Homo sapiens: one gene and its partner. The protein of the gene in region 1 interacts with the protein of each later gene in a pairwise test. Each region holds a gene or a part of one and is shown in the gene's direction. Other genes may lie near its edges.

Region 1 (7,468 bases):
GTTAAATTATTCATTTCAACATAAGTAATAGTATAAGTTCAGAAGCAATATAAAAAACAGGTTAAATAAATACTGTTATATTTACCCAATGGAATATCATGCAACTGTTAAAAAAAAGAATACTGGGAGCTCTATGATAAATGTCTGTACTATTATAAAAAACTCTCGGTTGGGTGCAGTGGCTCATGACTGTAATCCCAGCACTTTGGGAGGCTGAAGCAGGTGGATTGCTTGAGCCCAGGAGTTGGAGATCAGCCTGGGCAACATAGTAAGACCCTGTCTCTACAAAAAACGAAGCAAAACAAAACAAAAACAACAAAAAAACCAAAACCCAAAATTAGCTTGGAGCTGAGAGTGGTAGCACACACCTGTGGTCCCACATACTTGGGAGGCTGAGGTGGGAGGATTGCTTGAGCCCTGGAGGTTGAGGTTGCAGTGAGCTGAGATCATGCCACTGGACTCTAGCTTGGGGGACAGAGTGAGATCCTGCCTCAGAAATTAAAAAAAAAAAAGAGAGAAGAAAAGAAAACTCTCCATGTTGTTAAGTGAAAAAACTAAAATTTAGAACAAAGTGAATAGTTTACTATATGTGTAGCAAAAGAAATGTATGAATATATGTCATCTATCTTTATTCATTACCTATATATGTGTATATATACATATGTATATAAGCAGGTAGGTAGGTATTTGCTCACATATGGCATTATCTGTGAATAATACACAAGAAACATACAACGTTGGTTGCCCCAGTGGTGAGAAGAACTGGATAGCTGGGGGCAGGGATGAGAGAGGACATTTCATTTTATGTATGTATTTTGGAGGTTTTTGTTCATTTGCTTGTTTGTTGAGAAAGCAGATTCTGAGACTGAGTTTAGTGTCCAGGGTGTTGATTAGGAAATGGCCTTGGTATCCAAACCTGTGGAAGGGTGAGAAAGGAATCAGGATTGAGCAGAGGGGGAAGACCTACAATTTGGGCCTGACAACACATTCCTCCATCAAGGCCATCAAGAACTCAGGAGTTGGCTGGGCACTGTGGCTCACACCTGTAATCCCAACACTTTGGGAGGCAAAGGCAGGAGGATTGCTTGAGCCCAGGGGTTCACATCAGCCTGGGAAACAAAGTGAGACCCCCCTCTCTACAAAAAAAATTAAAAAATTAGCAAGGCATTGTGGCACGTGACTTTAGTCCCAGTTACTTAAGAGGCTGAGATGGGAGGATTGCTAGAACCTGGGCAGTCGAGGCTGCAGTAAGCCGTGATTGTGCCACTGCATTCCAGCCTGGGTGACAGAGTAAGACTGTCTTAAAAAACAAACAAACAAACAACACTCAGGAGCTGAAATAGTGCATTTAAGAGTTATCCTGCTTTGGACAACATGGACAGCCTTTTATATTTCTGCCTTGATCAGTCCCCAGACGTGGGCTGCCTTGGAAAGGGCATGAGCTCCAGAAAGGCTATTCTCTGAAACTGAAGCACTCCCTGAGGGAGCTAACAGCTGAAAGCTTTCTGTTCACAGCACTCTCAAAGGTGGGCAACATGTACTTCCTTGGATTCTGAGTGATTCATCTCTGTGTCTGTCACTTACGGCCTATATGATTATGATCTAACCTCTTGAAACTTCTCTGACCTTACCTCCAAGTACTGTTCACTTCACTTGCTCTGCTCCTTATTGTTTCTTGAGTTTCCATCTCAGAGTCCTTTTTCTTACTGTTCCTGTCTTAATTGTTCCTCCCTTAAATAACAATGAGGCCCACGACTTTCTTCCTTCATACTTCTGCTGAAATATCTGCCTACTGAGAGGACTTCCCTGATCACCTTACCTGAAATAGTACACTTCCTTTAACTTCCTTTACTTCTTTTTCTAATACTCATCACTGCTTAACATACATTTCTTTGTTTACTTTTTGTTGATGTTCATTTATGATCTCCCTCACATTGTTTGGTTCCCTGGTGTATCCTCAGTGTCTAGGATAACACAGTAACAGGCACATAGTAGGCTTTCAACAAATATTTGTTGAATGAATGAATGAAGGAGTCAGGCACTGTGCTAAGTTGTAAGATAGAATTACAAGCAAAAGTGGAGGCAGGCCTTGTTCTCATGGAGCTTGCTATCTGGATGGAGAGGCAAAATAATGCATCAATCACACAAAGCTGCAGTCATGACATGGGCTAAAATGGAAAAAAAGATATGGTAGGAGAAGAGCATGTAGAAGAGCCTTGAAAGCTTCTGTGAGAAAGTGATGTGTAAGCTGAAATCTGAAGGATGAGTAAGCTTCAATTAGGCAAAGGAACATGGAAGAATCAGGTTCATTTTTGGAAAAGATCCCTCTGGATTCAACAGGGAAGAGTGAATGAGAGGGAGCAAGGATGGGTATCTATGGGACTGTTAGGAGGGTATGGAAATCCTTCAAATGGGGGGTGATGGTTGCTTGAATTAGAGGTGACCCTGGTGGTTAGAAGAAACAACTACAGGTGAGAATTATTTATTACACAACAGATGAGGCTTATTTATGAATTGTATATGGAAGGTAAGGAAAGGGAAGTGAAAAGAAGGGCTTCTGGGTTTCCATATAACTGGATGGATGGTTGAAAGAATATTGGAAGAGAAACAGGTTTATTTTGTTTTATTTTGTGTTTATATGTGTATATGGAGAAGAACAGTGAGAGAGAAGACAGATTATGATTTTGATTTTTGACATTTTGGTTTTGAGGTGTTATTGAGACTTCCTGTATGAGATGCCAAATAGACCATTGGTTATGAGTGAAGAGCTCAGACATGTAGCTTGGGCTGGAGAAGTAAATTTTTGAGTTGTCTGCCTAGGTGGTATTTGAAAATGTGGGAGTGGATGAGATTGCCTAGGCAGAGAACATTCAGTGATAAGAGGAGAGGATGATCTTGAGGGACTGACTTGGAAAAGAGACTAACAGGACTGACTAGAGATGTTGGAAGAAAAGGAGGAGAATGTGATGTCACCTCAAAAGAGTGTTTCTAGAAGACGAGTCCGTAGCCATATCAAACCTCCTGAAAAAGGACCCGAGAACTAAAAATACCAGTTGCACTAACTAACATCATGGAGGTCATTGGTGATGCTAGTGATTTTTTTGTTGTTGTTGTTGCAGGAGAAATGTTAAGGTTAGTGGAAAATTGATGAAATGGAAACATTGTGAGTAAAAAGAGAAAAGAAAAGCTGAGGGACTATTTGGGGATGGGGGTGGAGGGATGGAGAGTTTAGTTGGTAGTGCGAAGTTTCCAAGAAGATAGGTAGGAAAGTGAGTACCAGTAAAGGGCTTATTAAAATACCAAAGAGCCCAGCACTTTGGGAGGCTGAGGCGGGCAGATCATGAGGTCAAGAGATCAAGACCATCCTGGCCAACATGGTGAAACCCAGTCTCTACTAAAAATGCAAAAATTAGCTGGGCATGGTGGCGCACACCTGTAGTCCTAGCTACTTGGGAGGCTGAGGCAGGAGAATTGCTTGAACCCGGGAGGCAGAGGTTGCAGTGAGCCGAAATCCTGCCATTGCACTCCAGACTGGTGACACAGTGAAACTCCATCACAAAAAAAAAAAAAAAAAAAAAAAAGGTCACAGAGGGACTCTGTATTGTAACAGGAGGGAAGAAAGAAAACGGCAGGGTGCAGACTTGAGTAGATTTCTGTTTGGTAGAGGTGAGATGAAGGGATTGGCTTCTATTTTCTCTGTAATGAAAGAGGAGGGATTAACTACTTTTCTAGGTGTTAATAAGGGTGCCTTGTAAACGAATTGTTTTATATGTGAATGGATGCCTTAGCTTTCTAACTTTCACAGGTAAGTAAATATATATCCATGTTCATAGCGGTGGGAACAGAAACAATAGGTGTTTAAAAATACTAGATTGAGGCCGGGCGCGGTGGCTCACGCCTGTAATCCCAGCACTTTGGGAGGCCGAGGTGGGCGGATCACGAGGTCAGGAGATCGAGACCATCCTGGCTAACCCGGTGAAACCCCGTCTCTACGAAAAATATAAAAATTAGCCGGGCATGGTGGCAGGCACCTGTAGTCCCAGCTACTCGAGAGGCTGAGACAGGAGGATGGCGTGAACCCAGGAGGCGGAGCTTGCAGTGAGCCGAGATCGCGCCACTGCACTCCAGCCTAGGCAACAGCGAGACTCCGTCTCAAAAAAGAAAAATACTAGATTGATTTTGATTCTAATAGTGATGATAATTAATCTGATGATATTCTGATGGCAAGGAAAAGTATAAGCTCCAATCAGGCCCCTGTCGTAAGCCGCCTGACAAGTGAGAGAAATGAGGTTCACAGTTGGCTGGTCACAGCACAGGGAAAGGAAATCCACCCCCACGCTCCTTCTGGTCCAGGACCCTAAGGGTTAAGATCAACGAGAGTGGGCCATCACTGTTTCCTAGAACGGCCCCAGCAAAGCCGCCGGGGGAGATGAGGGTAACTTCCTGTTTCTGCCTTCCGGGTTTGAGAGTTTAGGACCCTGGGTTGGTGGGGTCAGAGGGAGAGGGGGTACCTTCCTCCCGGACCGCTGGGGGTGCAGGGCGCCTTGGGTGTAGCACCCAGAACAGTGAGTTCCTTCTTGGGGGGAAGGGAGCCGAGGGTTGCGGGCTAGAGGAGTGGAAACAGCCCCGTCCAGGCTGCAGTGGACGTCCGGGAGAGAGTTCCCGCTGCTGCCAGGGGCGAAGGCCCAGCATCTCCCGCCGACGGGCCACCGTCATCCTTGTCCGCGGGGTCCCTTACGGGATCTTGTCGGCCGGAGACCGTCTGGTATCCTGGAACTTCACCCCCCAGCGTCTCCAACTTGTACCAGCCAGCGGTTCTTAAAACTAGGCTTCAGGCAGTGCATTTTCTTTGAAGGCTTTCTGATCAAAGCACGGCCCCACTCTGATCACATTGTTGCTCTAGAACAGTGAAAACACTCCTTCCCCGTGGAGAGACATCTTAATGGCAGCCTTGTATGGTCTTGCATTTGCCACCATTTTGCTGAGCCACTGTTCCGGGGGCTCCTTTGCTGCCAAATTTAATAGTATTTTAGTAGGGAAAATGGGGGAGATGGTAATGTGTTGCCCAGACTCTTGCTGCTTTTGTAAATACTTTGATAACAATATGTAACTTAGGACAGCAAAATATATAACTCCATTCGAACAACTCCACCCCCTTCCTTTTTTTGCATTCAGGTGTATGGTTTTTTCTCCCCCCCAACTCAAACACTGGGGATATTAGTAATGTAGACTAGTTTCACGTTTCTCTAGAACAAATCCCCACTTGCTGAGTGTGCTTAGGGAATGTCGACTCACTTTGTTAACAAGGTTTAGGAATGTAGACCTCTGTTTTAAAATGCCAGTATTCTAAATATTCTAAAATAAAGGGACTCTGAGGATTCTTTGCAGTTTGGGATTATGCCCAGCTCTGCTTCCTGTTCTAGTTTACGATAATAGATCAGAGGGTGAAAAAGGTCAGCATCCAAACAGACTTGGAGCTCAGTCCTGCTCTACCACTTTCTAGGTGACCTTAGGAAAGTTTCTTAATACCTTTCAAACTCATCCTATAAAATGCTGGTAGTTGTTCATACACTTCAGAGGGCTACTGTAAGAATTAAATGACAAATGTGTGCAAATTATTTCATTCACTACCTGGCACATAATAGGCAGTAATGGTGAAGATACAATATAAGTACATATACTATTTTTTGTTTTTAAAATGTGTGCATTTGTATATCCTTTTACGTCCTTATTTTTCTCCCAAATAATGATACTCTTTATATTCTGAAATGGATGCCAAAAGTCCATATGTCACTGCCTTCCTGTGATAGATCACATTTTCTTCTTTTTCTTTTTCTTTTTTCTTTTTTTTTGTTGAGACAGAGTCTTGCTCTGTCACCCAGGCTGGAGTGGTGCAATGGCACGATCTCGGCTCACTGCAACCTCTGCCTCCTGGGTTCAAGCGATTCTCCTGCCTCAGCCCCCTGAGTAGCTGGGACCACAGGCGCCCGCCACCACACCCGGCTAATTTTTTGTATTTTTAGTAGAGATGGGGTTTCACCGCATTAGCCAGGATGGAACATTTTCTAGTCCCTTAAAATAGGTTAGTGATTGTTGGCTCCAGAAGACGAAGTTTAGGCTGAAATGGATATTGTGAATATGATAGACTTAGGAACTAAGTGCAAGGAGGAAGAGGTCCCTCTTTAGCCTCCTTTTTATATTGCAGGGTTATTGGCTATAATTATTCCACCTCGGCTTTGTCCTAATTTCTCTTTACTGGTTATATAAATCCTAACTTTCCTTTGAAATTGACTTCAAAGGTTTCCTTCTGTCAAGACCAAGTTATTCTTTTGAAACTAAACAGGGTGCTTTTTTTCTTTAGCTGCTGCTTATGCCTTCATATTGATTCCTTGAAGTCTTTATAAGTTTTATTATTGGTGTCTTAAAAAAAATACTTTGCTTTTTAAAGTAAAAGTGTTTCTAAGCTACGTGTGGACAATGAGGATTAGTATTCTGTCTTTGAAGCTTGATCCTCAGACCTTTAATGTGAAGATTTACTTTTTTGCATTGTTATTTCAGGGTTAACCCTTAATTCTAAACACTTAGATCTGAGATAAGATTTTCTAAAAGGGCTGCTAAAAGTTGTGTTTCTTATTTTCGGTATGGTTCATGGAACATTCTATGCCTCCTATTGTTGTGTTGGAATGGTTGGGAAGGAAGGAGGAAGAATAAGCTTTAACAAATACCTCCAAACATAATTTATTTCCTTCCACAGGGTTTCTGATCTCTAACTTGGCTGTGATCATTGTGATGGAGCAAGAAAAAAAACTGTTGGTCTCAGATTCTAACAGCTTTATGGAGAGGGAGAGTTTGAAAAGCCCTTTCACAGGTGAGGGATCAAGACGATGATCTGAATCCTTAGGAAATTTGATGTAGAAAGAACAGGACACTAGAATGAGACAAACCTTAATTTAATTCCTTGTTCTGTCACTTATAAGCTGTGTTAATTATTTCAGCCTCATTGTTCTCATCTTTAAGAAAATGAATAATATCTATTTCACATATATTTTAGAATTAGTGAGATACCGTATCCAAAGCTACTGTTCTTAATAAATAGTGGCTATTGTTATTTCTATAGCATTTGCTCAGATTTTAGCAAAGCTATTGTCTAGTTTTTACCTGAGATGGTATCCTGTTCAATTTAACTTCTATTCACATCAATCCTGTTTTTTCTCTTAAGTCTTCTAGAACAAAACCTAATGCATTTATTTTTAGATTGATGTTCCCTTTGCCAATAATGATTCAAATAATTCATTATTGTTGTTGCTAGGTACAAAAAAAAATCCACCTGCTTCTGGTAAACAGAGGAAAAGAAGTAAAACTGTCTTTAAAAACTTTTTTATATGAAATTATTTATGAGGTTTTACAGTGTTATTTCCTCTCTTCCACTGCAATTTAGAATTTACTTCTCTGGCAGAGATTTGGAATA
Region 2 (7,546 bases), about 100 Mb from region 1:
CAGAAAGCATTATAAACTCCAATAATGAGGTGTTCAGTGCCAGCATTTTTTTCTTTTATTCCTTAGAGCAACTTTTAAGGGCACGTTTCCAAAGAAAACCCATTTACAAGGGTGGAAAATGAAGATACTGTAATCAGAAAAAAAAAAAAAGTGGAAGTCGTGATGTGGCCATTTTAAAGAGTTAGGTCAGCTAATTTGCATTTTAGCTTATTAATTCCTGAAAGGGTGTTTTGTAAATTGATGTTTAGAGTTGCATGTAAAATGTTACAGTGCCAGTTATGTGTCATGTTCCACTGGCCACACCCATTTTATTTTACATTGGGATATTTGAGAAACCTACAACAATCATGTAGTTTTTTGCTGCCACTAGCTGCCCAAATGGAGCATGCTCGTTAATGGTTTCCTCATGGTGCAGAAGAATTCAAATTGGTGTCCCCAAAGCAGGATAGGTTTATTATATGCACGCTAAACTCTGCAGATGGCAGACTTCGCTTATCAAATTCCACAGAGACATAAGGAAGCAGTAAATGCCAATGGCTGCAGTTTGTGGAATGAGTAGAACCCTCAGTCTGGAAGCAGGTGGAGCTTAGGTTTGAAGGAGCTGTGTGAGTTGGCAAATTACTTACTTCTCTGGGCCTCAGCTGTTTGCTCTGAATAATAGTGACCATCTCCAGGTGATCTTGTCATTATTCAATACAAGATAGCAAATGCCTGTCATATAGCAGGTATCTTGCATGCATTTATTTACTGGGTTTCCTTGCATCCACGTACCGATGCCAGCTTTGGTGACACTGATGTATCTACCTGGTGGTGAGATGGATGGAGACTCATCTGCTGATCGGCTGTTCTTTTTCTTTTCTTTCTTCTTTTTTTTTTTTTGAGATGCAGTCTCACTCTGTCACCCAGGCTGGAGTGCAGTGGCGCGATCTCAGCTCACTGCAACCCCGCCTCCCAGATTCAAGCAGTTCTCCTGCCTCAGTCTCCTGAGTAGCTGGGATTGAAGGCATGTGCCACCACACCTGGCTAATTTTTTTGTATTTTTAGTAGAGACGGGTTTTCACCATATTGGCCAGGCTGGTCTCGAACTCCTGACCTTGTGATCTACCCGCCTCGACCTCCCCAAGTGCTGGGATTACAGGCATGAGCCACTGCGCCCGGCCGACTCATCCGCTGTTCTGTCCTAGGACTTCTGCCAGAGCTTATTGGTGGTAGGAGAACTTGACTTTTTTGACTCTTGGACTGAGGCTTTTCATGGGCCCTACCCTAAAGCTGACCTTTTCAAAAACACATGCCAATACAGAACTTCCTGCTTTCTCAGATGGCTTTAGAATAATAAAATGAAAAGTCATCAGTCGCCAGGTCCCATCTATCTGAAACTTTCAGGCTCTGCTGGCACTGGAGAAGTAGAATGTTTTCAGTGGTTCTAAGAGTTATGCCTTATGTTTTTTTTATTATTATTACTGTGAAGATATTTGCTTTTTAACTAAATGACCTGGGACAGTTCTTTGGAGGGTTACAGAAGTATTAGGGATAACCAGAGTGGTAGGAATTCTGTTAAAGGGGTCATCAACATACTTCCATATTTTTAATCTCCCAGGAGCATGTTTTGTTGATAGCCCTCAACCAAGTTCAGGTTTGCAGAGAATATGTTTAAAGGGGAATAAATGCATAAGGGTGTGACAAGACTCAAAAGCCTCCTTCTAAAGAGACTGCGACTCTACTACAAACAGCACTAATCAGAAACATTTATGGTGAGGGAAAGAAAAAGTCAATATATATATTCTACCTAAATAGGTTTTCTAAAGTTGTTCACTTTGCTTTGCCACACAAAGCAATGCCATGTGTGCTTTTAGAGCAAAATGCTGGAAAGAGGATTCAAAAAGGAGGATGACTGGACAGAATATTAAAGAAGAGGCAGGCACCTGGCAGAGGAAGGCTGAAGATAGAGTAACCAAAACTCAGACCCCGGCTGGATTCGGGAGTCCTGCAAAGCAAGGCTGTCGTGGAGTATGAGGTGGCCAGGCCAGGAGATATTTAAAAAGACCAGAGATCGATAAGCCTAAACGCTGTGGATCTGCCCCTTCCCCCACTCTGTGGGCCGGGTTCAGCACAGGAAAGGGTCCCATTCTCACCCTTTGCTCCTGTGTTCCTCTTTTTTCCAGCTACCCAGGGGACGGCAGGCAGCAGGTGCCCCAATGGTTTCTTCTCTCTGAAGCATCCCTCTGCAGCACCCGCCGCCCCTCTCCTTTCTGGGCAGCCTCCTCTGCAGTCAAAGGCTTCAGGGAGGAGCCGCGGAAAAAAAGAAAAAAAAAAAAAAAAAAAAAGAAAGAAAGAAAGAAAAAAAACGCTGATGGACTTAAGATCTGAGGGTGACCTGAAACTCCGGGGAAAGACAGCTGGCACAAAGGAAACGAATTCATAAATACCTGAGAGTGTGTTTTATGCAGACTCACACACACTGAGTGTGGAACAATGAGGTTTGCAGGGAGCAGGTTAACAAAATAATCCATTCTGCCATGCTTCATCTACATATGGGTAATTGGGAGGAGACAACTCTATGGCTTATCTGGGTCCTTGTTCCACCCTCCGCCTCCAGAGAAGCCTATTCCACCCTTGAATTTCATGAGTGAAAAGACCAAGGATAGCTAGGCTATGAAAAGTCAACAGAGTAAGTACCCTACCAAACCTGCCAGGGACAAACAATATTCAGGACAGCCTCATGACCTTAGGCTTGAAATCTAGAATATTTGGGCATGGATGGTCCTCTGAGATCACTTAGTCTTGATAGATTTAAACTACTAATTTCAATATTTGTGAATTTGCATTATTTGCGACAACAGACATTGTTTAGAAACCCGAGGAAAGTTATCTGCTGCAGTCTATCATGAGGACGGTGGGCTATCACAATCACAGGTATTTTTTTTGGGGGGGGGGATGAGAAAGGGCCTCTGAGGATAAGCCTCACCCCATCCTTTCCTCGGGAGAGGAGTGAAATGTCTCCAGAAGCAACTGCACCACTGCAAATACTTCACCCTCCAAGTATCACAGGGGAAGCCATTCCGGCTTCTCTATTTGAAAACAGTTACCATATTCCCCCTCAGTTTGCCTCTTAAAAAAAACATAAGTTGCACATCAAATGCTGCGATATACAAATAAAACAAAAACTAAATGCTTGCTCAGATAAATCTTAGGTGTTTCGTGTAAATCTCTGCAATCCCTCCATGAAACCTGGGGGACTCCTAACATCATGCGTGTGAAAATGCCCTGCAAACCGTAGGGTTGTATCCACGTGCGCTACCGCGTGCGCCAGTTTCAAGCATCTGGGTGCTTCCTGAAGGAAATCCATGCATTCCTGACTGCATCTGTTTTCGGGTTATTACATTGTATCGGGGGAAGAGTCACGCGGCTATGGCTATTTTCTATCCGTTCCTGAAGAAGCCTGGGTGCCGAGTTCTCCTCCCCAGAGACCACACCCAGCGCTCAGGGCTGGCCGCAGCGGCTTCCCTGAAAATCAGCCAACTGCAAGGCTTATCGAAATCATCAGGTCGTGTGCTACACATGTGTAAAAAGAGGAAAGCGGACTTTAAATGTGCTGCGGTTGGTGGTAGCAAGCAGGAATTTAGCTTGGTGAGGATCCAGGCAGCTTGAAGCTCCCGGCTGCGGAGCGCGCGGCTGCCTCAGCAAGTCAGTCTCTGTGTTTCCAACTCTTTCTCTGCCCTCCACCACCCACACACTGCAACACGTTAAAGCCATCTGCGGCTTCATTCTCAGTTAAGAAATGTGAAAATCTAGAAACACTAACAGGCGGATTAACTGCTGTAAAGGTTTAAAAATGCTAAACCAATACCTGCAGTAGTGCCGCAGTTTCACGAGTGTGTGTGTGTGTGTGTGTGTGTGTGCGCGCGCGCGCGCGCACTCGCGCGCACATTCCCTATGTGTTAAGCAGCTCATTAAAGAAAAAGAAAAATAATCAGGAGAAAGGAAGATGAATTGCAGAAAGTGCCAGAAAGCTAGAAAGAAATTAAAACTCTTCTCCATACATACTGCATACACATAACCTAGCCTATTTATTTGTATCTAAAATTCCCTAGCCGCACCATCACCGTAAACACCAAGGGAAAAAATTAAGGAGGTTCCTGGTGGGAAAAGGGCGAGTTGGGGGGACAGGGTGTCTGCGAGGTGACGGGATACAGAAAACTAGGGTGTCAAAAGGGAGCAAGAACCTGTTTTGGGGGCAACTTAAGGATCCAAGTGTCACGGGGTCTGGGCAATGCAGGACGGGAGGGGCTGCGTGAGTGAGTACAGAAGGGAAATGAGTGAGGGGGCATGGGATCTCAGAGAAAATCAGGGCCCTCTGAGCAAAGTGGAAAGGACGACCGCCGCAGCTCCTCGGGCCGTAGCTCGACCCCGCCTTCCCTTTTGCGCAGAATCCTCGCCTTGGCTGCAGCAGCGCGCTGCCCCCACTGGCCGGCGTGCCGTGATCGATCGCAGGCTGCGTCAGGAGCCTCCCGGCGTATAAATAGGGGTGGCAGAACGGCGCCGAGCCGCACACAGCCATCCATCCTCCCCCTTCCCTCTCTCCCCTGTCCTCTCTCTCCGGGCTCCCACCGCCGCCGCGGGCCGGGGAGCCACCGGCCGCCACCATGAGTTCCTTCAGCTACGAGCCGTACTACTCGACCTCCTACAAGCGGCGCTACGTGGAGACGCCCCGGGTGCACATCTCCAGCGTGCGCAGCGGCTACAGCACCGCACGCTCAGCTTACTCCAGCTACTCGGCGCCGGTGTCTTCCTCGCTGTCCGTGCGCCGCAGCTACTCCTCCAGCTCTGGATCGTTGATGCCCAGTCTGGAGAACCTCGACCTGAGCCAGGTAGCCGCCATCAGCAACGACCTCAAGTCCATCCGCACGCAGGAGAAGGCGCAGCTCCAGGACCTCAATGACCGCTTCGCCAGCTTCATCGAGCGCGTGCACGAGCTGGAGCAGCAGAACAAGGTCCTGGAAGCCGAGCTGCTGGTGCTGCGCCAGAAGCACTCCGAGCCATCCCGCTTCCGGGCGCTGTACGAGCAGGAGATCCGCGACCTGCGCCTGGCGGCGGAAGATGCCACCAACGAGAAGCAGGCGCTCCAGGGCGAGCGCGAAGGGCTGGAGGAGACCCTGCGCAACCTGCAGGCGCGCTATGAAGAGGAGGTGCTGAGCCGCGAGGACGCCGAGGGCCGGCTGATGGAAGCGCGCAAAGGCGCCGACGAGGCGGCGCTCGCTCGCGCCGAGCTCGAGAAGCGCATCGACAGCTTGATGGACGAAATCTCTTTTCTGAAGAAAGTGCACGAAGAGGAGATCGCCGAACTGCAGGCGCAGATCCAGTACGCGCAGATCTCCGTGGAGATGGACGTGACCAAGCCCGACCTTTCCGCCGCGCTCAAGGACATCCGCGCGCAGTACGAGAAGCTGGCCGCCAAGAACATGCAGAACGCTGAGGAATGGTTCAAGAGCCGCTTCACCGTGCTGACCGAGAGCGCCGCCAAGAACACCGACGCCGTGCGCGCCGCCAAGGACGAGGTGTCCGAGAGCCGTCGTCTGCTCAAGGCCAAGACCCTGGAAATCGAAGCATGCCGGGGCATGAATGAAGCGCTGGAGAAGCAGCTGCAGGAGCTGGAGGACAAGCAGAACGCCGACATCAGCGCTATGCAGGTGCGGCACGGCCAGAAACACAGGGGGGCGGGGGACTCGAGCAAGGGGGGGAGTTGGTGCGCCCAGAAAGTGGAGACCAGGGGTGGTGCGGCTGCACGCAGCTCTTAGGGATAGGGCTTGGCTCCTTGGCCACTGTGTGGGAGGGGTGGGGCACTTGAAGGGCGTGAGTGCGGGCGCCACTGTAGTCTGGGAGTGTGCTCCGTGCTGCTGCACCGGCGTTCCGCATTAAAGCTGCCCAGCCCTTGTTGGGTGGGGGAGGGGAAGACGTGGGAATTGGGCGTTGCCTCCGGCCTGCAGTGAGATCAGCTCTCTACTGACCTGCATTAACCACAAGTTACTTTGCAGCAACTATCGGATCATCTAGTTAATAAATAGTAGAGTGAACAACTCTCAATTAATTCTGAAGGATTACTGTGACCAGCATGCTTTATGACTAGTTTTACCAACCACTCCCTTCCTTTATTTAGTAGGTAGACAGGAAAATAGTCAACATTGTTTTAGGTAGTTAACTAGTGATGTTCATAGTAAACCATTTCCTTTTACCTTTTTTTTTTCTTTTTTTCTTTATGTGTAAAATCTTCTACAACATTTCTGTTTAAACATCTCCATCTTCTGGGGAGTAGAAAAAATACAATTTTAAAAAGATCTCCATTTTAAAACATCTCCATCTTCTGGGGAGTAGAAATTTTTTTCTTCTTCTGGGGAGTAGAAAAAATAATTTAGATACATAGGAAATATTTCATAGAAAATAATTTTTTTCTTTTTTTTGTTTACATCTGGCTATTTTCTTCTCATAAAGAAAGGCATTAGTTTCCTGGCATGTAACCCAGCTAAAGAAGAGTTAATCAGTGAATGAGAGACACAGTTTTTCTATCAACTTAGTCTGTTTGCATGCATTTTATGATGATCATTAAACAGTATTAAGTAAAGAAACAGAAGAACAGAATTTTCGTCCATCTTTTTTTTCATCTCAGGCTTCATGAACTTGGGTATTTTAGGCATGAAGGTTTTTCAAAAGATACAGGAAGTTATTCTAGGAGAGATTTTATCAAAGGTGTGCACCTTGATTTTAATCGAAACTAGGCCTTTGCAACTACACTACAGTAAAATAATAGAAGGGATTTATGCTCGGATTTTTTTTTTGTTTTATTTTTGTCTTCAAACAGGACACGATCAACAAATTAGAAAATGAATTGAGGACCACAAAGAGTGAAATGGCACGATACCTAAAAGAATACCAAGACCTCCTCAACGTGAAGATGGCTTTGGATATTGAGATTGCAGCTTACAGGTGAAAATAGAGGGGCAAAGACAGCAGCCATTAAACCTTAGGAAGAAAATCAGATCCCATTTAAAGTTATGTTGGATCAGAAACCTTCAATAATAGTCCTTTTGAAATAATGAAGTGTTAGTTTTTGGCTTCTTCCAAGAAGAGGGTATTTAGATATATAAGAATTTAACCCTGTAATTAGGAGTCCTGTTTTTATCTTGTCATTACACTTTAAATCTAATAGGATGATTTATTTATATTTTTTCTGGTCTCCATCAAAAGATCCCCAGGCATTAAGTATTGATAAATCCCAGCCCTGCTCCTGCTTGCCTTTGTGTTTAGGGTACTCAGAGCAAGTTGTGAAACACAGGTGTTTTTTAACCTCACCTTGCATCTGCATCCCCAGGAAACTCTTGGAAGGCGAGGAGACCCGACTCAGTTTCACCAGCGTGGGAAGCATAACCAGTGGCTACTCCCAGAGCTCCCAGGTCTTTGGCCGATCTGCCTACGGCGGTTTACAGACCAGCTCCTATCTGATGTCCACCCGCTCCTTCCCGTCCTACTACACCAGCCATGTCCAAGAGGAGCA

What was found. The genes of interacting proteins can lie anywhere in the genome.
Region 2: the proteins of ZNF572 (region 1) and NEFL interact in binary tests that used the Homo sapiens proteins (3 or more experiments, as listed by UniProt).

The regions. Positions count from the first base shown.
Region 1 is NC_000008.11:124,968,852-124,976,319, forward strand, and holds the start of ZNF572 (zinc finger protein 572), read left to right. Parts: upstream 1-4,443; 5' UTR 4,444-4,565; intron 4,566-6,754; 5' UTR 6,755-6,789; coding exon 6,790-6,868; intron 6,869-7,468. UniProt on the Homo sapiens protein: May be involved in transcriptional regulation.
Region 2 is NC_000008.11:24,953,613-24,961,158, reverse strand, and holds the start of NEFL (neurofilament light polypeptide), read left to right. Parts: upstream 1-4,546; 5' UTR 4,547-4,643; coding exon 4,644-5,687; intron 5,688-6,853; coding exon 6,854-6,978; intron 6,979-7,291; exon of another isoform or gene 7,292-7,363; coding exon 7,364-7,546. UniProt on the Homo sapiens protein: Neurofilaments usually contain three intermediate filament proteins: NEFL, NEFM, and NEFH which are involved in the maintenance of neuronal caliber.